Homo sapiens: one gene and its partners. The protein of the gene in region 1 purifies or fractionates together with the protein of each later gene. This does not show direct contact. Each region holds a gene or a part of one and is shown in the gene's direction. Other genes may lie near its edges. The genes, in order: FOXA3, ADAR, MAP2K3, ARMC6, NCAPG, WRNIP1 and SATB2.

Region 1 (3,486 bases):
ACCCTCCTTGGCTCCCAAAGTTCTGGGATTACTTTGGGAGGCTGAGGCAGGAGGATTACTCGAGGCCAGGAGTTTGAAAACAGCCTGGGCAACATGGTGAATCCCCGTCTCTACTAAAAATACAAAAAAATTAGCTGGGTGTGCGGTGCATGCCTATAATCCCAGCTACTTGGGAGGCTGAGGCAGGAGGATCACTTGAGCCCCAGAGTTTGAGGCTACAGTGAGCTGCGATTGCACCACTGCACTTCAGCCTGAGTGACAGAGTGAGACCCTGTAGAAAAAAAAAATTATTTAGGAGTCCAAACAGTTTCTGTTGATGTGGGTTATGTCTATCTACGTTTACAGTATTTACAATTAAAACTGAGAAATATTACAAACATGTATTCATTTAAAAATAGCAATCATTTGTTAGTGTAAAAGATTTTTATTAAAAAAACCAAATTTCAAAAAATTTAGTCAAAAGAGCGACACTGTTTTTTTCCATTTTTGCAAATCAAGTCTGGCCCAGTGGAAGACAGCTGGATTCTCCTGGTTGCTTCTTCATTCTCTCTGTTGGAATATCAACACCCCCTGGAAAACTCCACTGTACACTTCATGAGAAAGAGAGTGAAAAGGGCTAATAATAACTTAGGATTGCGGGTGTGGTGGCTCATGCCTGTAATCTCAGCACTTTGGGAGGCCGAGGCGGGCAGATCACGAGGTCAGGAGTTCAAGACCAGCCCGGCCAACATGGAGAAACCCTGTCTCTACTAAAAATACAAAAAAAAAAAAAAAAAAGCTGGCGTGGTGGCACACACCTGTAATCCCAGCTGCTCTGGAGGCTGATGCAGGAGAATTGGTTGAGCCCAGGAGGCGGAGGTTGCATTGAGGTGAGATCACGCCACTGCACTCCAGCCTGGGCGACAGAGCAAGACTCTGCCTCGAAAAAAAAAATAGCATTATTTTGAAAATAGTTTTGACTTCGTGGACATCCTCAAAGGGTTTCAGAGACTGCCCTGGGAGTCCCGAACCCTGGAGAATCACTTAAAGGATGATGTTGAGTGTATGGGAGCATGGTGGGTGGGAAAGCAGGGGGCAGAAAGGGCGTGTCCAGGGAGTGAGGAGAGACCTTGAGAGACTGCTTTCTACAGATAGAGGTAATGATGGAAGGGATTTGTAGAGAAGGCAAGATGGACAGACAGACGGACACTCAGTGGGTCCTGGGATCCTTTGCTGACCAGCAGAGTGGAGCCCCACTGACCCCTCCTTTCATCTTTCCCCTAGGTCTACTCGCCGGTGACCCCAGTGCCCACCATGGCCCCCCTCAACTCCTACATGACCCTGAATCCTCTAAGCTCTCCCTATCCCCCTGGGGGGCTCCCTGCCTCCCCACTGCCCTCAGGACCCCTGGCACCCCCAGCACCTGCAGCCCCCCTGGGGCCCACTTTCCCAGGCCTGGGTGTCAGCGGTGGCAGCAGCAGCTCCGGGTACGGGGCCCCGGGTCCTGGGCTGGTGCACGGGAAGGAGATGCCGAAGGGGTATCGGCGGCCCCTGGCACACGCCAAGCCACCGTATTCCTATATCTCACTCATCACCATGGCCATCCAGCAGGCGCCGGGCAAGATGCTGACCTTGAGTGAAATCTACCAGTGGATCATGGACCTCTTCCCTTACTACCGGGAGAATCAGCAGCGCTGGCAGAACTCCATTCGCCACTCGCTGTCTTTCAACGACTGCTTCGTCAAGGTGGCGCGTTCCCCAGACAAGCCTGGCAAGGGCTCCTACTGGGCCCTACACCCCAGCTCAGGGAACATGTTTGAGAATGGCTGCTACCTGCGCCGCCAGAAACGCTTCAAGCTGGAGGAGAAGGTGAAAAAAGGGGGCAGCGGGGCTGCCACCACCACCAGGAACGGGACAGGGTCTGCTGCCTCGACCACCACCCCCGCGGCCACAGTCACCTCCCCGCCCCAGCCCCCGCCTCCAGCCCCTGAGCCTGAGGCCCAGGGCGGGGAAGATGTGGGGGCTCTGGACTGTGGCTCACCCGCTTCCTCCACACCCTATTTCACTGGCCTGGAGCTCCCAGGGGAGCTGAAGCTGGACGCGCCCTACAACTTCAACCACCCTTTCTCCATCAACAACCTAATGTCAGAACAGACACCAGCACCTCCCAAACTGGACGTGGGGTTTGGGGGCTACGGGGCTGAAGGTGGGGAGCCTGGAGTCTACTACCAGGGCCTCTATTCCCGCTCTTTGCTTAATGCATCCTAGCAGGGGTTGGGAACATGGTGGTGGGTATGGCTGGAGCTCACACCACGAAGCTCTTGGGGCCTGATCCTTCTGGTGACACTTCACTTGTCCCATTGGTTAACATCTGGGTGGGTCTATTACTTACTGTGATGACTGCTGTCTCAGTGGGCATGGTGTTGATCCACGGGGTACTGTGATAACCACCATGGATACATTTTGGTGGCCCACTGGGTACTGTGAGGACTGCTACATTGATGGATGTTATTGGCTAATCCACTGCATGGTTTGATGGCCACCATCTCGGTTGGCCCTTTGGGTGTGATGGTGATAGCATTTCAGTGACATCTTCTTTGGCCCCCCCCATTAGGTGCTGTGCCCACTTCTTTTTTGGTGTACTTGGCACAGTAGGTGCCAAGTTGGCCACCATTCTGTGTAACACCTTTTTTGGCCCATTGGGTGCTTTGATGGACATCATACTGGGTAGGTGACAACGTCAGTGGGCCACCATGTGCCATGATGGCTGCTGCAGCCCCGTGTTGGCCATGTCGTCACCATTCTCTCTGGCATGGGTTGGGTAGGGGATGGAGGTGAGAATACTCCTTGGTTTTCTCTGAAGCCCACCCTTTCCCCCAACTCTGGTCCAGGAGAAACCAGAAAAGGCTGGTTAGGGTGTGGGGAATTTCTACTGAAGTCTGATTCTTTCCCGGGAAGCGGGGTACTGGCTGTGTTTAATCATTAAAGGTACCGTGTCCGCCTCTTACTGAATGTCTCTTTTCCTTGGCCAGTGGGCCCTGTGGGGCTTGAACACCTGAATTTCTGCTCCTCTGTCCCTTCTGCTTCCTGCCCCTAAGAGCTGGCTGCCTCTGGGGGAGGAGTTGGGGGAGGCATCGACCTGACCTTTGGCTCTTTGCTGTCCCTGACCCCAAGGACAGTTTGCTCACAGATAGCAGCCCCCGCAGCAGTGGGGCCAGAGCAGCAGGGGGAGGTGGCTCTGCAGTGACCAAGGCCATCTCCCCACCCCCACTTCTCAGACATACACACAGACCTCTACCTCTGAGGCTCTGCAAGCCTAATGGCCGAATAATCTTTGGCTAAGCTGGGGAGGAGGAAAAAGGACAGATGAGGTGTCAATTCAATGACTGGAGATCGTGCACATGTTGGAGTTTATCTGCGTGTGTGTGTGTGTGTGTGTGTGTGTGTGTGTGTCCTCTGTGTGTCATAGGATAGCACTATGCCTATTGGGGTCCTCATGGTCTACCG
Region 2 (2,630 bases), on another chromosome or scaffold:
CAGCCATCCTCCCATCCTGCACTTTAGCCAGCTGCAGGGCGGGCAAGGCAAGGAAAGCTGCTTCCCTGGAAGTGTATCACTTTCTCCGGCAGCTGGGAAGTCTAGAACCAGCCAGACTGGGTTAAGGGAGCTGCTCAAGCAATAGCAGAGGTTTCACCCGGCAGGATGACACAGACCACTTCCCAGGGAGCACGGGCATGCCTTGGAATATTGCCAAGCTTCCAGCTGCCTCTTCTCCTAAAGCATTCCTAGGAATATTTTCCCCGCCAATGCTGGGCGTACACCCTAGCCAACGGGACAAATCCTAGAGGGTATAAAATCATCTCTGCTCAGATAATCATGACTTAGCAAGAATAAGGGCAAAAAATCCTGTTGGCTTAACGTCACTGTTCCACCCGGTGTAATATCTCTCATGACAGTGACACCAAGGGAAGTTGACTAAGTCACATGTAAATTAGGAGTGTTTTAAAGAATGCCATAGATGTTGATTCTTAACTGCTACAGATAACCTGTAATTGAGCAGATTTAAAATTCAGGCATACTTTTCCATTTATCCAAGTGCTTTCATTTTTCCAGATGGCTTCAGAAGTAGGCTCGTGGGCAGGGCGCAGACCTGATCTTTATAGGGTTGACATAGAAAGCAGTAGTTGTGGGTGAAAGGGCAGGTTGTCTTCAAACTCTGTGAGGTAGAATCCTTTGTCTATACCTCCATGAACATTGACTCGTGTGTTCAGAGCCTTTGGCCTCTCTGTGGAGTCTGGCTCTCTGGCTCCTGTGCATTCTTTGAATAGTCACTCGTAAAAACTGTCAGTGCTTGAAACTGTTTCCTTTACTCATGTTGAAGGGACTTTGTTGGCTTTTAGAGTGTTGGTCATGACTCCAAGAGCAGAGCAGGGAAGAGCCCAAGCATAGACTTGGTGCCGTGGTGATGGCTGCAGTCCAGTTTTGTGATGCTGCTTTTACGTGTCCCTCGATAACAGTCAGCTAGACACACTCAGGAGGACTACTGAGGCTCTGCGACCTTCAGGAGCTGAGCCTGCCTCTCTCCTTTAGATGACAGACCTTCATCTGGGAACGTGCTGAGCCAGCACCCTCAGATGATTTCCCTCCAAACTGCTGACTAGGTCATCCTCTGTCTGGTAGAGACATTCACATCTTTGCTTTTATTCTATGCTCTCTGTACTTTTGACCAAAAATTGACCAAAGTAAGAAAATGCAAGTTCTAAAAATAGACTAAGGATGCCTTTGCAGAACACCAAAGCATCCCAAGGAACTGGTAGGGAAGTGGCGCCTGTCTCCTGGAGTGGAAGAGGCCTGCTCCCTGGCTCTGGGTCTGCTGGGGGCACAGTAAATCAGTCTTGGCACCCACATCCAGGGCAGAGAGGTCTGTGGTTCTCAGCATCAGAAGGCAGCGCAGCCCCTCTCCTCTTCAGGCTACAGGGTTGTCACCTGCTGAGTCCTCAGGTTGTTTGGCCTCTCTGGTCCATCTTGGGCATTAGGTTCTCCAGCAGAGCTCTGGCCAGCTGCCTCTTCTTTAACTGGGAACACAGGCTCTCACAAGATCAGAACCCCCACTCACCCCCAAGATCTTATCTAGCAAGCCTGTAGTATTCAGTTTCTGTTGTAGGAAGAGAGCGAGGCATCCCTGAATTCCACGCATCTGCTGGAAACGAGCCGTGTCAGATCGCACATCCCTGCGCCCCCATGCCCCTCTGAGTCACACAGGACAGAGGAGGCAGAGCTTCTGCCCACTGTTATCTTCACTTTCTTTGTCCAGTCTTTTGTTTTTAATAAGCAGTGACCCTCCCTACTCTTCTTTTTAATGATTTTTGTAGTTGATTTGTCTGAACTGTGGCTACTGTGCATTCCTTGAATAATCACTTGTAAAAATTGTCAGTGCTTGAAGCTGTTTCCTTTACTCACATTGAAGGGACTTCGTTGGTTTTTTGGAGTCTTGGTTGTGACTCCAAGAGCAGAGTGAGGAAGACCCCCAAGCATAGACTCGGGTACTGTGATGATGGCTGCAGTCCAGTTTTATGATTCTGCTTTTATGTGTCCCTTGATAACAGTGACTTAACAATATACATTCCTCATAAATAAAAAAAAAACAAGAATCTGAATTCTTAGAAAGTTTTAAGTCCTGGTTTCTTGGGGGAGGTGAAAATGGGAACAAAGGGACCTGTGGCCCTGGGGTTTCTGATAACAGCACCAGTGGCATCTGACATGAACCTGTGGGGGACAGGGCTGTCCCTCAGCCTTTGGAAAGGAGCCATTTCAAAGAACCTCCCTTTGTGGGTAAATTTGCGTCTGGGTGGGGTGGGGTTCATCAGGCACCTTTTGATTACGTACCCAGCAGGGCCCTTCCCCAGCAGAGCCCACGATTGATTGATTGATTGATTGATTGATTGATTGATTTAGAGATGGAGTATCACTCTGTCTCTCAAGCTGGAGTGCAGTGGCGCGATCTCGGCTCACTGCAAGCTCCGCCTCCCGGGTTCACGCCATTCTCCTGCCTCAGCCTCCCGAGTAGCTGGGACTACAGGCGCCTGTCACCACGCCTGGCTAATTTTTTTGTATTTTTAGTAGAGATGGGGTTTCACCGTGTTAGCCAGGATGGTCTCAATCTCCTG
Region 3 (3,500 bases), on another chromosome or scaffold:
CTCATCAAATAGTTTAGGTTCTGGAAAGAAGTATTGGCTTCAAAATCTGAGAAGAAAATGTGCCATCAGAAATTACCATCTATTTAAGGGAACCTCCTAGGGTCAGGGTCACTCATCGTGAAGTCCTGGGTGCTTTGTGATATGGTGGCCACAGGGCTTTCTCTGGAGTTCTTGGTGCTTGTTGAGAAATCACAGCCAATCCCAAATTACGTAAGTTCCTGGTATGTAAATCATGCAAAAGCAAGATGGTAAAGATCTTTTCAAAAATATTTCATAGCAGAAGGTTTGTTGTCGGTGGCGTCCTGGTACATTGCGGTGGGGTGGTAGAAAGGGTGGGCGGGCTCTCAATCCTGGGCCTGTGGAAGCCAAAGGCATCCCTGGCTTGGGTAGGGTGAGGGCAGATGTGGCAGAAGTCCGAAGTCCAGGTGTAGGGATGGGCCCAGAGCAGTTGCTTCTGGAGTTGCCTGGCAGAACCCCATGCCTTCCGTGTTGGGGCTCAGGTCAAGGTGTGGGTGAGCCCGCTCTGGCTCCCCTGTGGACAGTGGATTGGAGGGATGGGAAGACCACCAGGATGTGTCCCCCAGCCAGGGCTAGGAAGCTGTGCAGGAGACGCGTGGAAGGACGATGCCATCAGCAGGTCGGGCTCAGGCTGGTGGCCTTGGCCAGTTGAGTGGCTTGGGACCAATGGAGTGTCCTGGGCGTCAGCTCCTTCCCTGCCCAGGGAAGCCTGGCCCAGGACATTCCTGCTTGTCCCTAGTCCCTTTGACTGTTTGGTGTTGGGGATGAGGCCGTCAGATAGAATCAGTAAGATGTGGTGAGAAGCGCTGGCGGGGTGTTTTCCAACACCGCAACCCATTCTCGGATTCTCCAGACACCCACCCAGTGCCCTGCAGTTCCGTTCGGTTCTGATGCTACCTGGAGTTCGCACAGACCCCACAGGTTAAGGGCTCTGTCCCACCAGACTGCCCCCAACATCACACACCAGTTGGAAGTAGCGGGTCTCCCATACTACTGGACTGACCAGCTACAAATTGGGGGTCCCCATGACCCTCTCGTAAGGTTTGATAATTTCCTAGAATGGCTCACAAAACTCAGGGAAACACTTTATTTGTGTTTACTGGTTTATCAGAAAGGATATAACTCAGGGCCAACCAGATGGAAGAGACTCACGGGGGAGGGGTGTGAGTGTGGGGTGCAGAGCTGCCGTGCCCTCTCAGGGCCTGGCACCCTCCTGGTACCTCCCTGTGCTTGCGAACCTACAGGCTTCTCAAGCTCATGGAATTTTGTTGTTTTTGACACAGAGTCTCACTTTGTCACCCAGGCTGGAATGCAGTGGCACAATCTTAGCTCACCGTAACCTCTGCCTCCTGGGTTCAAGCGATTCTTGTGCCTCAGCCTCCCGAGTAGCTGGGATTACAGGCACCACCATGCCCAGCTGATTTTTGTATTTTTAGTGGAGATGGGGTTTTGCCATGTTGGCGAGGCTGGTCTTGAACTCCTGACCTCAAGTGATCTGCCCGCCTCAGACTCGCAAAGTGCTGTGATTACAGGCATGAGCCACCACGCCCAGCCTCACATGGAGAGGTTTTTTGTGAGAGAGGGTCTCACTCTGTTGCTCAGGCTGGAGTGCAGTGGTATCATCGCAGCTCACTGCAGCCTTGAACTCCCAGGCTCAAGCCATCCCCCTACCTCAGTCTCCTGAGTAGCTGGAACTACAGGTGTGTGCCCCTATGCCCAGCTACTTTTTTAATGTTTTGTAGAAAAGGGGTCTCACTATGTTGCCCAGGCTGGTCTTGAAATCCTGGGCTCAAGCAATCTGCCTACCTCGGCCTCCCAAAGTGCTGGGATTATAGGCACAAGCTACTGCACCCACTGAAAGTTTTTATAGAGCACAGTCTCCAGGCCCCCCTCCTCTCAGCATCAGTTGGCGGGTGATGCTGAGAGTTCCCACCCTCTATAATCAGCTGGGTTTTCTGGGGAGCAGCCCCATCTGAGGCTGTCTAGGGGCCTTACCCTGAGTCACCTCATTAGCATAAACTCAGGCTCCTTGTGGATAACAAAGCCACTCCTGTCACTCAGGAAATTCCAAGGGTTTTAGGAGCTCCATGCCAGGAACAAAGACCAAATAAATTCCTTTTTATGCCACGGGGGTGGAGAAGACTGGAGCAGGTAGGGGTGGCTCTGGGGACAGGTGGAAGGCCACTGTTGCAGATGCGGAGGCCTCTGCAAGGAGGGCACCCTGCTGACCTGAGGGCAGGGTAGACCAGGGGGTGCAAGTGCAAAGGCCCTGAGGTGGGGCTGTGCCTGCTGTGTGCCTGGGTGGCTGGGTCAGAGGAGAGGGAGGGAGGGTTGGGAGCGAGCGAAGAGAAGTGTCTGGTGGGTAGAGAGTTGACGCAGGTGTTGTGGGTTTTACTGGTGTTGCTGCTACCATTGTTATCATCATCATGTGGTTATAACTTTATTTATTTTTAATTTTTATTTTTTTGAGATGGAGTCTCACTCTGTTGCCCAGGCTGGAGTGCAATGGGACGATCTCGGCTTACTGCAACCTCCGCCTCCTAGGTTCAAGTGATTCTCCTGTCTCAGCCTCCTGAGTAACTGGGATTACAGGCTCGTGCCACCATGCCCGGCTATCTTTTTTTTTTTTTTTTTTTTTTTTTTTTGAGACGGAGTTGCACTCTGTTGCCTAGCCTGGAGTGCAATGGCATGATCTCAGCTCACTGCAACCTCTGCCTCTCGCGTTCAGGCAATTCTCCTGTCTCAGCCTCCCCAGTAGCTGGGATTATAGGCGTGAGCCACCACACCTGGCAAATTTTTGTATTTTTAAAAAAGACGGGGTTTCACCATGTTGGCCAGGCTGGTCTCAAACTCCTGACCTCAGGTGATCTGCCTGCCTCTGCCTCCCAAAGTGCTAGGATTACAGGGGTGAGCCACTGTGCCTGGCCTTTTTTTTTTTTGAGGGAGTCTCACTCTGTCGACCAGGCTAGAATGCAATGGCACAATCTCAGTTCACTGCAACCTCCGCCTCCCAGGTTCAAGCAATTCTCTTGCCTCAGCCTCTCAAGTAGCTAGGATTACAGGCATTTGCCACCATGCCCGGCTAATTTTTGTATTTTTAGTAGAGACGGGGTTTTGCCATGTTGGCCAGGCTGGTCTCAAACTCCTGACCTCAGGTGATCCACCTGCCTCAGCCTCCCAAAGTGTTGGGATTACAGGCGTGAACCACCACGCCCAGCCTTGAGCCACTGCGCCTGGCCTGTGGCTGTAACTTTATAAATAGTGTATCTGTAGACAGTGACTGGGAAAGACTCAAAGTCGAAATAATTTTGTCAGAGAGGTGGGACTGGGCCATACCTTCAATTTTCTTTAATTGGTGACATGTAATTTTTCAATTAAAATTTTTTTTTTTTGAGGTGGAGAGGAATATTCAGGCTGAAGGCAGGTGCTGTATCTGCAATAACAGTTTTCCAAGTCCTAAGTTTGATGCAAAGGACAAGTTC
Region 4 (3,500 bases), about 27 Mb from region 1:
TAGCAGGAAGTGCCCTGAATGCATGATCAGATTCGGGTTTGAGATTTTGGCACGATGACTTCACAGGTGCATTTTGTTCTTGTTCAGGAGGTAGGTGTTGCTGGTTTCTCTTGATGATGTGAGATCAAGCAGTAGACTGAGTTCCTGTCTACCCCTTGTTGGGCTCCCATCAGTTTTACACCTGATGGTTTTGGATCCTGTGGGATCATTATCTGTTTCTCTCCTGTCACAGCTGATCAGCTGGAATCGGAAGCAGAACTTTTCCTCATCCTCTTTTTATAACCTGGGACTCATTTGTACAAGGGAGGCAGGTTAAGTGCTAGGTTTTTTTTAAAAAAATTGTTACTAATTATTGTAGAGACAGTGTCTCGCTACGTTGGCCAGGCTGGTCTTGAACTCCTGGATTCAAGTGATCCTCCCATCTCAGCCTCCTGAGTAGTAGCTGGGAGTACAAGAGCATGCCACCACTCCCTGCCAAGAGCTGGATTCTTGGCCAGTTTTCAGAAGCCTGAGCTGTATTTGTTTTAGTATTATGAAAGCACAGAGTTTGACTTTTTTTTTTTTTTGCAACATCGTCTGACTGTCAGCCAGGCTGGAGTGCAATGGCATGATCTCGGCTCACTGCAACCTCCGCCTCTGTGCTCAAGTGGTTCTCCTACCTCGGTCTCCCTGATTGCTGGGATTACAGACGTGAGCCACCACACCTGGCCCAGATTTTGATTTTGATATGTACTGGATTTTTTTTTAATGCTCACTTGTCTCATCTGTAGCTACCAGGCATCCCTTAGGGTTTGGAAGCTTCCTTGCTTCCTGGTCTCACAAGACCCCAGCGTTACCTGCCCCATGACCTGCTGGGACTTGGAATCAGCCATTCCTCCAGAAGCCCTGGCTCCTTGTTTTTAAAGATTTTATGTAGAGACAGGGCCTCCCCATGTTGTCCAGGCTAGTGTTGAACTCCTGGCCTCAAGCCATCTTCCTGCCTCAGCCTCCCAAAGTGCTGGGATTACAGGAGTGAGCCACCTAGCCCTGGCCCCAGCTCCTTTTCGTGGGAAATGGTAGAAACCATACATGGTGTTAGAGGTATTCAGTGCTCCTGTGCTGTCATTTCTCCTAGGCATTTTTAGTTGCTATGACTAGAAAATTAGATCTTTGTTTACCTAAGAGAAAACACATGATGGGTTTATATGGATATTCCCATTTCATATATAGGAGTTCTGAGATTTTTTTTCTCAACTTTATCGAGGTATAGGATGTACTTTTTTTTGAGACGGAATCTTGCTCTGTTGCCCAGGCTGGTGTGCAGTGGTGCAATCTCGGCTCACTGCAACCTCTGCCTCCTGGGTTCAAATGATTCTCCTGCCTCAGCCTCCCGAGTGGCTGGGATCACAGGTGCCCGCCACCATGCCCGGTTAATTTTTGTATTTTTAGCAGAGATGGGATTTCACCATGCTGGCCAGGCTGGTCTTAAACTCCTGACCTCAGGTCATCCACCTGCCTCGGCCTCCCAAAGTGTTGGGATTACAGGCATGCGCCACTGCACCCAGCGAATTGTATTTAATATAGTGTATATCTTATACTATATATGGTACATAAATGATACAAATATATTGCATATGTTTACATTATACAACTTGACGATTTTATATGCATGCAGATTGTGAAATACTCACCTCAATCAACAGTTACCTTTTTCTTTTTTGTGGTGAGAACACTTAGAATCTACCCTCTTAGCAAATTTCAAGTATACCATACAATATTGTTAATTATAGGGAGTTCCGAGTTTTTAGTTGATAGTACGATGTTAGAATCTTTTTTTTTTCTTTTTGAGTCAGGGGCTTGCTCTGTTGCCCAGGTTGGAGTGCAGTGGCGCAATCTTGGCCTCCCAGGCTCAAGCGATCCTGCTACCTCAGCCTCCTGAGTAGTTGGGACTACAGGCATGTGCCACCACACTCAGCTAATTTTTATTTTTATTTTGGTAGAGACAGACTTTTGCCATGTTGTCCAGGCTGGTCTTGAACTCCTGGGCTCAAGCAATCCTCCTGCCTCAGCTTCCCAAAGTGTTGGGATTATAGGCATTGACCCACTGCGCCCAGCCAGAATCTTTTTTCTTTTATTCTGATTCCTAATAAGATAATCATTATTATTTGCTACATCCGTAATAGTTTCAGAATAACATTACTAGTATCATTATATTAAAGAACCACCTTTCTTAGATAAAATGTAGTAAACTCTGTGTTCTCTCCTACACTTTGTTTTTTTTTCCCAAGACAGGGTCTCACTCTGTGGCCCAGGCTGGAGTGTAGTAGTGTGATCATGGCTCACTGCAGCCTTGACCTCCCAGGCTCAAGTGATCCTCCCACCTCGGCCTCTCAGAGTGCCGGGATTACAGGCTAAGCCATCACACCCGGCCTCTTCTGTATTTGCAGAAGTTCTAGGGAAGTAGGGATATCACCCTTTCCTGTGATAACAGGTGGGAAGAATTTCTCCAGGGTGGTTGTAGGGCTCTGGTCGCTGGTAGATGCTTCCTAAGTGGCGTTTTCAAGGTGGCCAGGCCCTGCCATTGCCTGCTCACCCTTGAGGTAGCTCTCTCTTTGCCCTAACCTCTCAGCTCAGGAGCATCTATCGGCTGCACGCCAACATCAACACAGGCGAAGATGGTCTCCAAGCGCATTGCCCAGGAGACCTTTGATGCAGCTGTGCGCGAGAACATCGAGGAGTTTGCGATGGGGCCAGAGGAGGCAGTGAAAGAGGCCGTGGAGCAGTTTGAATCGCAAGGTAGGGTGGTGTGACTGTCACCTACCATCCTTGGCTCTTAGATGCAAGAGCAGTGGGAGAGCCCTGCTGCCCCGCCCCACTGGGGGTGCCACATGCCTGGCATAGAAACCAGGTGCCATTGGGCCCTGTCCCCTCCAGCTTCTGCCCGAGGCAGGCTGGTTATCCTGCTCCCACCTCTCACCTGCTTCCACCTCGCCCAGATATTTGTGGGCTGGATCCTTCTCATGAGTCTCATTTGATCACTTCCTTGAAGAGACTTTCCCTGACCCTGGCCTGGGAAACAGGGCCCCTGCCTCCCTGCCCTACTCTACCCTACCTCGAGCTTACAGAGGCAGAAGCAGCCTGTGGAAACAGGTGGCATGTTCAGACCAGGTGCAGATGAGTGTGGTTATGAGGGGCTGTTTGCAATGGTGTGGGTGGGGTTAGGAGACCACCCCTAGCACAACTAGCTCCGGCAGAGACCCTGACTGCAGGGAGCAGGAGTCCTGGGCAGGGGCCACATGATGGGTGCTGGGCCCTGGGGCAGAGGCAGGGGGCTGGGAATGAACACCCCACACTCCCCTCCTCCTGCCCCCATCTCAAGTTCACTTCCCCATTGAACAAACCCAGGGTACAGCCTGAGAGGTCAGAGGTCAGCCTCCTAGGCACAGAGTGGGGTATAGAACACTAGACAGGGGCCAGTGGGACAAGCAAAAGCGTCCAGCACTGTAGGGGCTCCCTGTGGG
Region 5 (3,500 bases), on another chromosome or scaffold:
CTTCATGACTTGAGACAAGGGCAAGAGTCATGTGGTAGGAATGATGAGTACAGCATTAGTTTTAAAACTCATTGACCAAAATTCAGTTAGGCCTTGTTGGTATTTGGGGAGTGGTTTGGGTAGAGGAAGGATGTTTTAGTAAAGGTGATATATGTAGATGGTTATGCAAATATTGGGGAACTGTAGAAAGATGACTTTGGCTAAGGATCCTGAATAGGACTGTTAGGGCACAACACTGGGGGTAGATTATAGATTGCTTTAAAGGCCAATGTAGGGAATTTGGAGTTGGCCTTATGTGCAATGGATAATTATGCAGGGCTTATGATGAAAGGGTTAATGTCATGAAAACCACTTATTGGAAAGATTAATTTGGTGGTCAGTGGTGGTTATATGAGATGAATTGGTGAGCAGAAAGAAAAGAATATTAATAAAGAAAGCAGCTGAAAATCTGTATAATTCGCTTGTAGAAAAAGTACTAGAAAGTAATAGTAGAAAGAATAGAAATTGACCTAATAAAGAATTATGGGTACAAGAATCTAAAAGAAAGAGCTTGAGAGGCAAGGGAGATGGAGGAGTCCAGGAAAACTCTAAGTATGTGTAACAGCAGACTTCAAAGGAGCTGTTGACATAGTTTAATTGGGGAGTACTCTCATGATCAGTGTCTTGGAAGAGTAAGGGAAAAGTAGATTGGGGCATAGCCCTAAGTTCAACTACTGCTATGCAAACAAAGGCCCCAGCCAATCCCATAGGGAGTTCCGGAACTGGGATGTTCCTTTGAGTTGTCCAGAATGGAGACAAGCTGAAACACTGTACTTGTGCACGGGCCAGTCATTGGATTTGGACAAATCTTTGGGAGAAGAGGTATGATCTTGGACAAGGTCCACCAAAGTCCACCATTGTCAGCCTGGATCAGTACTGCAGCTGGGAACTTTTACCCTCCAAAACATGCAGCAACTGGGGGATGAGTGCATCTTTCCTAAAGGGAGTGGAACTGGGCCCTATATCACAACATCCACAACAAGAAGTCAAGAAGGGGAGCTTATTTTGGGGGTAGGGAGGATGTTAAATTTGGTTTTAGACATTTTATATTTGGGATTATGGCAAGAAAATTAGTTGGAAATATTTGTTAGATGTGTAAGACTATATAATAATCATAATCATCTTCAATTTACAGAGAATTTTCTCTTAATTTTTTAGGCCTTAACAGTACATGACAATTTGGCTATGAAAATTTGCAATGAGATCTTAACAAGTCCGTGCTCGCCAGAAATTCGAGTCTATACAAAAGCCTTGAGTTCTTTAGAACTCAGTAGCCATCTTGCAAAAGATCTTCTGGTTCTATTGAATGAGATTCTGGAGGTAAAGTAGTTTCTCATTACTCTAAATTAGTTTGTGTTTATATTTATACATGTAGAATTTACATGGTTGTATTAGATTATACATATGTTAGCATATTGTGACTTATTTGAAGTATTTTCTTCATAAATTTCATATAATTTAGTGTTTTTAAACAACTTGATATGTATTGGTACTATTTTCAAAGATTAGGGAATGCGGTGTTTACAAAATGTTAATAATGTTTTCTTTTATAGCAAGTAAAAGATAGGACATGTCTGAGAGCTTTGGAGAAAATCAAGATTCAGTTAGAAAAAGGAAATAAAGAATTTGGTGACCAAGCTGAAGCAGCACAGGATGCCACCTTGACTACAACTACTTTCCAAAATGAAGATGGTAATCACATACTGAACAGAATATTTATAAGGTTCTGTTTTTTTTTTTCCATCTTTACTGAGACATATTTTTTTCTACTCTAACATGTTTGGTTGGACATCAGAAATGAATGAAATTTTTTTTCTAATTAATCCTCTTGGGAAAGAGCATTACTGATAAATGTTTATTCTGCTTTTCAAGTGTTTTTTGGCATGCATTTCTCAACATATGACCATCTTTTTAAGAGTTTTGCTTCTTTTTCCAATATTCAAATTTTCGAAAGGGTGATTTATAACTTTTCACTAGCTGCTAGAAGGACTTTGTCATTTCAGTTTTATAAAAACTGGTCTTAAAAAGACAATTTAAAATATTTCATGAGGTTATCTTATTTATATTGTTGTATTATTCCCTTTAATAGAAAAGAATAAAGAAGTATATATGACTCCACTCAGGGGTGTAAAAGCAACCCAAGCATCAAAGTCTACTCAGCTAAAGACTAACAGAGGTAGTGTGTGGATTGACCATCTTTATGATAAAAGTTTTAAATTTTATCTTCCAATGAAAAATACTTGTTTTGCAAGTTTTCTTATCTTTGTTTCCTTAGGGATAAAGATTTTTTTTAAAATGTCTTTGGTATCCTTTCTTTTTAATTCTTTCTGTGGATGTCAGTTTTTGCCTTGTGTCTAAAGATTATAAAATCAGTGTTGCTCTTGGTGCTTTAGATTGAAAGAAGTATGATGCAAAAGATATTACAAAAGACAATTTGGGTTAAATTAAGATTTGGTTAAATGATGGTTTTATATTAGTTATTTGTGTTCTATCCTTCCTGTAACTAAGCATTTTTAAAAAATCCCTGTAGTATTTTTCTGGGCTTTGTTTTCCTTCTATTCCCATCTTATTTCATATTTTCCCAACTTATTTCCCAAGGGCTATCCAACAATAGGGGATCTGTTGGCAAAGTAAATGCTGACTATTAGGGGGTCACTTGGAAAAAAATCTGAAATTCAAGATCTTTTTATTGTTTTATTATTTCCTCATTACAAAAGCAATGCATGCTTATTACAGAAGAATCAGAAAGTACATCCAGACAAACTACTATAAGGAACACTAATAATCCCACCCATGAGCCAACCATGATTTTGATTTTAGAAATCTATTTTTTAAGGCCCTTTTCGATGCAGATTTAATTTTTTCTAAAATGGAGTCTGGTCATAATATTGTTTTGTAACCAGTAAATTATTTAAATACCAATTGCTGGATATTGTTCCAAATTAGTCCCATATTGTTGGATGTTTTCTTGGGGATAAATGCATTAGTAAAAGCAGGTAAGGAGTAGAAAAAAGTGTAACATGAATGAAGTAGAGTATATAATTTTCAGACTGTCACATTGAACAGTTTGGTTTTGATCAGATTTTTTTTGTGGTATATCACACCATGAGAACACCATCCTTTTTAATAGACCAAACTTCATATATTCATATTGTTTTATTCCTTATAAATGAGAAACATCACAAGCCAAACTTTGTCTTACTCCTTAACCTTGTAAATTTCTAGTAAGTAGAATCTTATAATCCCCAGTATATAAAGGTTCTAGTTTTTACATTGAAATATATTTTAGAACACATTTGAATTGGTCATGTATGTTATTTTACAAGAAGCCATTATTACCTTACTATGTTTTATCACCTTCCAAGAAAAAAAAAAGTTGTTTCTTTAGCACCTGTTTATGCACCTAACCTACCTTTCTAACCCTTAATTTTCATGAGTCTCCACAGACTTTGTGCTATAGC
Region 6 (3,500 bases), on another chromosome or scaffold:
GGGATTCCAAAGATCTTAAAGAGTCACCCAAAAAGGAATCAAAGGTGGTTAGGGACAGAGGAGAAAAGGTCAGGATTAGCCTAAGGTTTAGCTACTTTCCTGTTTTATTTATAATATTTTTGTTGTTGTTGTTTTTAAATGTCCTGTGGTATTTTTGATTGTTTCTGTGCTGCTCAGCATTCTTCCGAGGTCAAGTTGCTTTTGGTAAATAGTGATGCTGCGTGTGGTGGTTCCCATGGGTGCTGGTCTCTCTGTGTCTTACCAGCTTTTCAAACTCCATGTATGTCATCTTTTCTAGACCACTCTGGCTCACATCATAGCCAGCAACAGCAAGAAACATAGCATAAGGTTTGTGACATTATCTGCAACAAATGCCAAGACAAATGATGTGCGAGATGTCATAAAACAAGCTCAAAATGAAAAGAGCTTTTTCAAAAGGAAAACCATCCTTTTTATTGATGAGATTCATCGGTTCAATAAATCTCAGCAGGTATATTAACTTCCTTCTACCTTTTGGTCGTTGTGAACATCAAACAATATAAAGTGTGTGAGATCACTATACAAACGCTAGAGACTTACGAGCTTTGTTTACAAAGAAGCGTAGGCTTGTGAACCCATCTCCTTCAAGCCTATTTCTCCATACATTTCTTAGTGTTTTTTGATAACAAGAAAATGCTTTCTCTATCTGATAAATGAAATGGTTGGCATATCCCTGAGCTATACGTATCAGAAAAGCACCTTTGAATCAAATTTCCAGTTTTAGGAATTTTTAATCTAAATACTAGGAGTCATTGTGAACAGTAAAATAATGATTTTAAGGTCATTATTTTAATGGGTTTTTAAAAATTACTTTAACAGTATTTTTATTTTGAAAATTAAACAATCGGTATTTTCTGTAACTCCAGGCTCTGTCTTCAAGGTGAATGTTGGAAGAGCTAATGATTACTGTTTATTTAAATGGGTTTCTGAAATAAAAGGACACAAGCTATTTTTATAAACAAAGCCACTTAGGGATTTAAAAAAAAATAAACATTAAAATTTTATTGGGCTGAGATCTGAGAGCTATACTCTAAATAAAAAAAAATTAAATTTTTAGGCATAACTTTAAAAAATTTTTTTTTGTAACTTTTTAATCATACATAGAATATTTCACAAAACTCTACTGAGCCTTTTTTGAACCTTTTTGAATAAAAAGACCCTTTTAAAGTTCTGACGAGGCGTTAGCATTCTAGGTTTCATATTGGACCACTGACTCATCTTAGTATTTTTTCCCCATAAAACAGCATAATAGGAATAATAATAATATGATTGAGTGCTTGCTGTGGAAGAAGATTCTGGAAGTGTTAATGTTTTTGTGTGTTCTTGTCTATAAATAAATAGCTGTTACATATAAGCTATGTGCCAGTTCAGCCTTTGGTAGAAGATGGTTTTCTGAGTAAAGAAATCATTTATGTTGAAACTAAGCTAGAATTCTACTTAAAGCTATTAGTCTACCAGCAAGAGATCAGGCTTGGACGGGCATTCCAGAAGATGTGTTTCAGACTTAAAAGCAAGAGTTGTACTCCCCCAAATATTGCATCTATATTCAGTGAATATAAGGCTGCTGCTATTCCTGAACTCGAAAGATAAAAATGAGGAAAAGGAAGGAAGGGATAGCCAACTTACATAGGATTCTGCAGGTGGCTGTTGACTGGAATCACTTTTTTCTGTTTTCCTCCCATGATTAGGACACTTTCCTTCCTCACGTGGAATGTGGGACGATCACTCTGATTGGGGCAACCACTGAAAACCCTTCCTTCCAGGTCAACGCTGCTCTTCTGAGCCGCTGTCGAGTGATTGTTCTTGAGAAGCTTCCAGTAGAGGCAATGGTGACTATTTTAATGCGAGCGATCAACTCCCTGGGAATCCACGTCCTAGACTCTAGCCGTCCCACTGACCCTCTGAGCCACAGCAGCAACAGCAGCTCAGAGTAAGTTGACAGTGTGCAGCGTCCTGGGGGCACACACCTCCCAGAGAGTCTCCTGGCAGGGGGCCAGAAAGGGCCGGGCGTCAGTGAGGAGAGGGTGGGGACAGAGAAGAAATGTTGATCCGCCCGTAATGAAAATAAAAGAGGAGGGAAATGTTCGATTATACCTAACAAAGTTATCCCTGCACACTTGAAGATGCATTTTCCAGCCTCTAATATGTGTTTCTATAATTCTTCAAGCTTTAACTTTGCTTTGTTGTTTTGGTTCTTGGGTGTTTGCTTTTGTGCTTAGGCTTCTATGGGAAGCCTTATTGATGATTTGAAAGGCTTTATGTCCCTCATTGAATAGAACAAATAGATAGATAAATACTTTCTAGACTTACCATACAACTCTTTTGAGCATTGTACTCATGTTTCAATTTCTTTTTAACCTGCAGTTTAGCATTTTGTTAAAAAAAAAAAATCAAGTAAAAATTAACTTGTAACCTTAAAATTATGTAATCCTTTTTGTGTAGTTGAAACTCAGTTTCATGAAAGTAAAGGAATGTTAACTGAATATGACATTATAGGCTGTCCCTATCCTTTTAGTGACCTATTTCTGCATCATGAGTACCACATGAGCTCGTTAATGCACCAAGTGTATATCATAGATAATTTGATTTCTTGGGTCAGGGGTTTTCCTTTTTTTTAATATTAGAACATATTCTTCAGATGGTATTTGTTCATACGTTGGCTGAAATACTGCCATGGAACATAATCTGGTGTGATGAGAGGCTATTGCCCACCTCCTCCTGCTGTGGACTCTGCAGCTGCTCGTGCCTGCCCTGAGGCCAAGTTCTGGAGCCACTTTTCTGTGAGGATTAAAGTACAAGGCATAGTTTAGGCTCAGGGTTTAGGTTTCACCAGGCTCTCCCTATGTGTCTGGCCCCATTTGCTCCTGTCTGAGATGGAGGGAGAATTCTGCTGTGTCTAATGAAAGCATTGAAACATTTGGCCCGTGGACCACTGGGTAGGACAGAGTGGCCTTGTTTTGGAATACCGTTGTGATGGGGATAGCCATTACATCTGTGGCCACAAGCAGTGTGTGGAACCTGTGGTATCAGCCACATGGACTCATACTCAGAAGTGCTTTATGTGGTGGGCATTTGTCAGAGCCTAAGGGGGCTGCCAGCTCCTCATATGTAGTACAGGTTGAGTATCCCAAATCTGAAATCCAAAATGCTCCCAAATCTAAAGCTTTTTGAGCACCTTCATGATGCTGTGAAAGGAAATGCTTATTGGAGCACTTCAGATTTCTGGATTTTGGGTGCTCATCTGGTAAGTATATAATGCAAATATTCTAAAATCAAAAAAATAGGAAATTCAGACCACTTCTGGTCCCAGGCACTTCAGATGTGGGATACTCATGTGTAGGTTTCCCGTAACAGAATTCTCATTACAGACGCATAGAACCACATGGTAAAGACAAATTGAAAGAAAAGGGGGGAAATCCTAACATGTTTCATGTTTCTGTGTGTTCTTTGCTCTGTGTACT
Region 7 (3,935 bases), on another chromosome or scaffold:
AAAGTGAGATGACCTTAGGCAATAAATGACTTGACTTTGCATCTCAGAATATAAATGATGGCAAATACTACTGTTATGAACCTCCTGTTTTGTAGGTGAGATACTAAATGTCCAGAAATGCTTTTAAGCTTTCCAAAGACCTGACTTTACAAATGACTATAGCTTACCTCCAGTGCTAGATAGATAACACATATTTCAGAGGGCTGATGGTTTTGGAAAGGTAAAATCATGAGTCCAGTGTTCATTTTTTTCTCTCTTAATTATCAGGTACTTCATAGACAGCAGTCTCAGCCAGCCAAGGAGAGTTCCCCTCCCAGAGAAGAAGCGCCTCCCCCACCTCCTCCGACTGAAGACAGTTGTGCCAAAAAGCCCCGGTCTCGCACAAAGATCTCCTTAGAAGCCCTGGGGATCCTCCAAAGCTTTATTCATGATGTAGGCCTGTACCCAGACCAGGAAGCCATCCACACTCTTTCGGCTCAGCTGGATCTCCCCAAACACACCATCATCAAGTTCTTCCAGAACCAGCGGTACCACGTGAAGCACCACGGGAAGCTGAAAGAGCACCTGGGCTCCGCGGTGGACGTGGCTGAATATAAGGACGAGGAGCTGCTGACCGAGTCAGAGGAGAACGACAGCGAGGAAGGCTCCGAGGAGATGTACAAAGTGGAGGCTGAGGAGGAAAATGCTGACAAAAGCAAGGCAGCACCTGCCGAAATTGACCAGAGATAATGTGAACTTCTACTAGGCAAAGCAATACATCGGTCCAAGGATTTTCTGCTTTCATTTCTTTAAAAGTTTTTTGTTAGTTTGTTTTTTGTTTTTGTTTTTGGGTTTTTTTGGCTTTATTTTTGTCTTTTTATGTCTGTTTTGTTTTTCTTACCCTTTTGGACATTTCTTTGTTGCACAGGATACACCTATAGACTGAATAAGTTCAGTATTTCCGAATCAGACATCGCCTTGGCAAAGACACTAAAGCGTTACACTTTATCCCGTCTCTATGACTGGATCATAGTCATTATAATCACAGGAGACTCTGCCTTCATTATCCTTGCACTTAACGGAAGTTACATCAGGCAAGTACCAGGATGAAAAGAACTATGAAATAAATGAAGGAAGCTACAAGTGTGTGTGTATATGTATATGTATATATCTCTATATTTACATATATATATTAAAATTGCATGGGACAGAGACTTTGCAATCCGAAAGAATAGACTGTGAAATGAGTTCTTAAAGAAAAGACTTGTTTATGTATTAAAAAAACCACTTCACAGTGAGTCGCTTTGGCTTTTTGATAAACTGCGGCCTGCTCTCAGGGTGGGGTGACTATTTTTGAATTCCTATTTATTTTTTGTGTTTGTCCCTGATTTTTTTTTTTTAATTCTATGGCTTCCTATCTGGCAGCTTAATGGGTAATTTTTGAGGTATGTATTTAACAAAATAAACGACACTGCCGAAAAAAAAAAAAGTGAAGTGAAAACAATCAGGGCACATTAAAATGATACAAGTCAAATAAATCTTAAAGACACAATGCACACTTAAAATGACTCAATAAAATGACTTGCTACGTTCCGTTATTCAATTTGTCATTACTGTAGTGAACAGATGCATTTCTGTGGAATTCCAAATAAGTAAAACTGAAATTCAGTGCAGAGAAAACTTTGTCCACTAGTGCAAGTCTTGATCAAATGACATTTTGACATTGGACATATGGAATTCATAGTATGAGCCACATTTTGTTGTGAAATTTATTTACCTGCTTGTGGCTTCAAATCTGAAAATTAATAAGCCTGCTCGTTTAAAAGTTGTTTGTTGTTGCTGTTTTTTTGTCTTTTTGTTTTTTACTAGAAAATAGTTCAGTGTAATATTAAGTTAGAAAAGAAGTTGCTGCCCAGTTAAAGGGGCTCCCTCTCAAATAAATCTCCATCCTTCCCTCTCCCAAAAGACATTTCTGATTTCTGCTTCACTTTGGGCTTCCTCTTCTTCGTACACATTCCATCTACCTAATCAAACATTTTCAGTCCCTGATCTCTCCTGTCCCTTTTCCTGGGATGACAGCCCTAACAAGAACTGTTTTTGAATCGTTGTGCAGCTCCAGGCAATAGAGTATGTGAAGCGATTTCAGTAGAATCACTTACTCATCCTAAAAGAAAACATTATCCCAGTTACCTACATCGCAATTACCTTATGTAAAGCAGAACTAATGCTGACTGGATGTTTAATGGGATGAGCATTAAAGCTGCAATCTACTATAGTACTCCAGATCTCTTTCGGCTTCCTATGAGAAACACCAGAAGCATTACTTTCCACTTCTACTTACAGTAATTGCAAGAGGAGACCTCACATTCAGGACTGGCCTAGTGAACGTAATCCATGCTTTAAACTGGCCATTAAACAGTCCCACATGGTTGGATTTTTTTTTTTTTTTTGAGTTGTGCTTTCACAAAACCTTGTCAAAGACCTCATGCAATATCACTTTGAAAGTTATTTTCTGTTTACTACACAAACATTGTAATATAACTGTTAATACTATTTATATATTTGAAAGGTATAAAAGGTAGGAGTTAAAAAAAAAACCTCTATGTGTAGATATTAACTCAGAACTTACAATATACAGGGAGAAGACATGTTGCAATACAAGCTAATTCTAGCTGCTCAGTAACCTCTGGAGTTTTTAAAGGGACATTTTCCTGTACTTTTTCAAATAATGATGTTTAAAAATTATCTTGACATAAGCGTCATATACCTTTGCAAAAGGATGGTTGTTTGCAGTTAGCCCTGGCCCCATCCTTCCTATTTCTGTAGTATGCTGCAGCTTTAATCAGAAAGTCCATGGTTGCTGCTTCCTGATCTCCGAGTTACTCTTTCCAAATTGTCTTCTTACACTGTTGCTGAAGGTCACTCTGTACACGTAATGGAAACTGATTTTGCCAAGCTCTTACAAGGTGGTTCATCTATCGATGGCATCCGCATTTGGTATCTTTTACACTTCAACCAAAAATTTATTAGGTATTTTTCAATGCTAAGTCTTGCCTTTTATTTTTTAATTTCACTGCCAAGTTTGCAGTGGTTCTAAGTGAATCTGTGGGCATTTTAGCCTGTGGTCTTGCCAGATCTTTGCGAATTACAATGCATATATGTCTATTTATTCAATATCTGTCATATAATATCTATTTGGAAGAAGAAACTTTCTCTTGTAGTGCCTCTTGACAAAGCACAATTTCCCGCCTTTTTTTTTTTTTGTGAAATGAAAAAAACAAATTGTGTTTTATTGCGGTATCAACAATGTGAATAAGGATTAACATATTGTAAATGTTCTTTTTTCCATGTAAATCAACTATCTTTGTTATCACTAAGTGATAATTAATTTTTAACTTATGTGCATTGTTAGGCTGTTAGAATTTTTTGGTTGTTAAAATAAACGCATTCAATAAATATGACTTTGTTTGTCAGTTATTTTACTGGGCATTATCTGCTTTCCCACTTAATTTTTCATGCAGAGAGAGACCTGGTGAGTCTTAGGAAAATTTGTACCCTTATTTTAGAAACAAGACAGTGGTACCTGCAATTACAGATATATGAGTCCTGTACAGTGCATGGATTTAATAGCACATGTGAATGTATGTGTGTCTCTGTGTGTATATAAACACATGCATGCTCACTTCCTTTATCCAATCTTTTGTCATATACAAACAAAACTCAAATGTATAAAGATATATTTATAGGCTGCTGTTTTATTTTTCTAGTGAATATTTTCTGTTTATAATTAAAAAACCACAAATGACTGCGTGTCAGGAAACTTTTGGAGCACATATGTCCATGGTTAATGGACATAATAAAAGTCTTTTATATTTAGAGCTGGGGTACCATAATGTGTGCATGGAGGAATGCTGAAAGGATTGATGTATCTGAGAAATGTGTGAAAATGATTTTTT

Evidence for each region.
Region 2: the proteins of FOXA3 (region 1) and ADAR purify together in Homo sapiens (affinity purification with mass spectrometry; one large-scale study listed by BioGRID and IntAct). This does not show direct contact.
Region 3: the proteins of FOXA3 (region 1) and MAP2K3 purify together in Homo sapiens (affinity purification with mass spectrometry; one large-scale study listed by BioGRID and IntAct). This does not show direct contact.
Region 4: the proteins of FOXA3 (region 1) and ARMC6 purify together in Homo sapiens (affinity purification with mass spectrometry; one large-scale study listed by BioGRID and IntAct). This does not show direct contact.
Region 5: the proteins of FOXA3 (region 1) and NCAPG purify together in Homo sapiens (affinity purification with mass spectrometry; one large-scale study listed by BioGRID and IntAct). This does not show direct contact.
Region 6: the proteins of FOXA3 (region 1) and WRNIP1 purify together in Homo sapiens (affinity purification with mass spectrometry; one large-scale study listed by BioGRID and IntAct). This does not show direct contact.
Region 7: the proteins of FOXA3 (region 1) and SATB2 purify together in Homo sapiens (affinity purification with mass spectrometry; one large-scale study listed by BioGRID and IntAct). This does not show direct contact.

Annotation. Positions count from the first base shown.
Region 1 is NC_000019.10:45,870,812-45,874,297, forward strand, and holds the end of FOXA3 (hepatocyte nuclear factor 3-gamma), read left to right. Parts: intron 1-1,263; coding exon 1,264-2,247; 3' UTR 2,248-2,986; downstream 2,987-3,486. UniProt on the Homo sapiens protein: Transcription factor that is thought to act as a 'pioneer' factor opening the compacted chromatin for other proteins through interactions with nucleosomal core histones and thereby replacing linker histones at target enhancer and/or promoter sites.
Region 2 is NC_000001.11:154,581,557-154,584,186, reverse strand, and holds the end of ADAR (double-stranded RNA-specific adenosine deaminase), read left to right. Parts: 3' UTR 1-2,130; downstream 2,131-2,630. UniProt on the Homo sapiens protein: Catalyzes the hydrolytic deamination of adenosine to inosine in double-stranded RNA (dsRNA) referred to as A-to-I RNA editing.
Region 3 is NC_000017.11:21,305,211-21,308,710, forward strand, and holds part of MAP2K3 (dual specificity mitogen-activated protein kinase kinase 3), read left to right. Parts: intron 1-3,500. UniProt on the Homo sapiens protein: Dual specificity kinase. Is activated by cytokines and environmental stress in vivo. Catalyzes the concomitant phosphorylation of a threonine and a tyrosine residue in the MAP kinase p38.
Region 4 is NC_000019.10:19,040,103-19,043,602, forward strand, and holds part of ARMC6 (armadillo repeat-containing protein 6), read left to right. Parts: intron 1-2,583; exon of another isoform or gene 2,584-2,608; coding exon 2,609-2,775; intron 2,776-3,500.
Region 5 is NC_000004.12:17,838,479-17,841,978, forward strand, and holds part of NCAPG (condensin complex subunit 3), read left to right. Parts: intron 1-1,197; coding exon 1,198-1,359; intron 1,360-1,592; coding exon 1,593-1,731; intron 1,732-2,128; coding exon 2,129-2,215; intron 2,216-2,708; exon of another isoform or gene 2,709-3,500. UniProt on the Homo sapiens protein: Regulatory subunit of the condensin complex, a complex required for conversion of interphase chromatin into mitotic-like condense chromosomes.
Region 6 is NC_000006.12:2,768,393-2,771,892, forward strand, and holds part of WRNIP1 (ATPase WRNIP1), read left to right. Parts: intron 1-298; coding exon 299-490; intron 491-1,665; coding exon of another isoform or gene 1,666-1,721; exon of another isoform or gene 1,722-1,727; coding exon 1,728-1,969; exon of another isoform or gene 1,970-1,984; intron 1,985-3,500. UniProt on the Homo sapiens protein: Functions as a modulator of initiation or reinitiation events during DNA polymerase delta-mediated DNA synthesis. In the presence of ATP, stimulation of DNA polymerase delta-mediated DNA synthesis is decreased.
Region 7 is NC_000002.12:199,269,005-199,272,939, reverse strand, and holds the end of SATB2 (DNA-binding protein SATB2), read left to right. Parts: intron 1-267; coding exon 268-729; 3' UTR 730-3,435; downstream 3,436-3,935. UniProt on the Homo sapiens protein: Binds to DNA, at nuclear matrix- or scaffold-associated regions. Thought to recognize the sugar-phosphate structure of double-stranded DNA.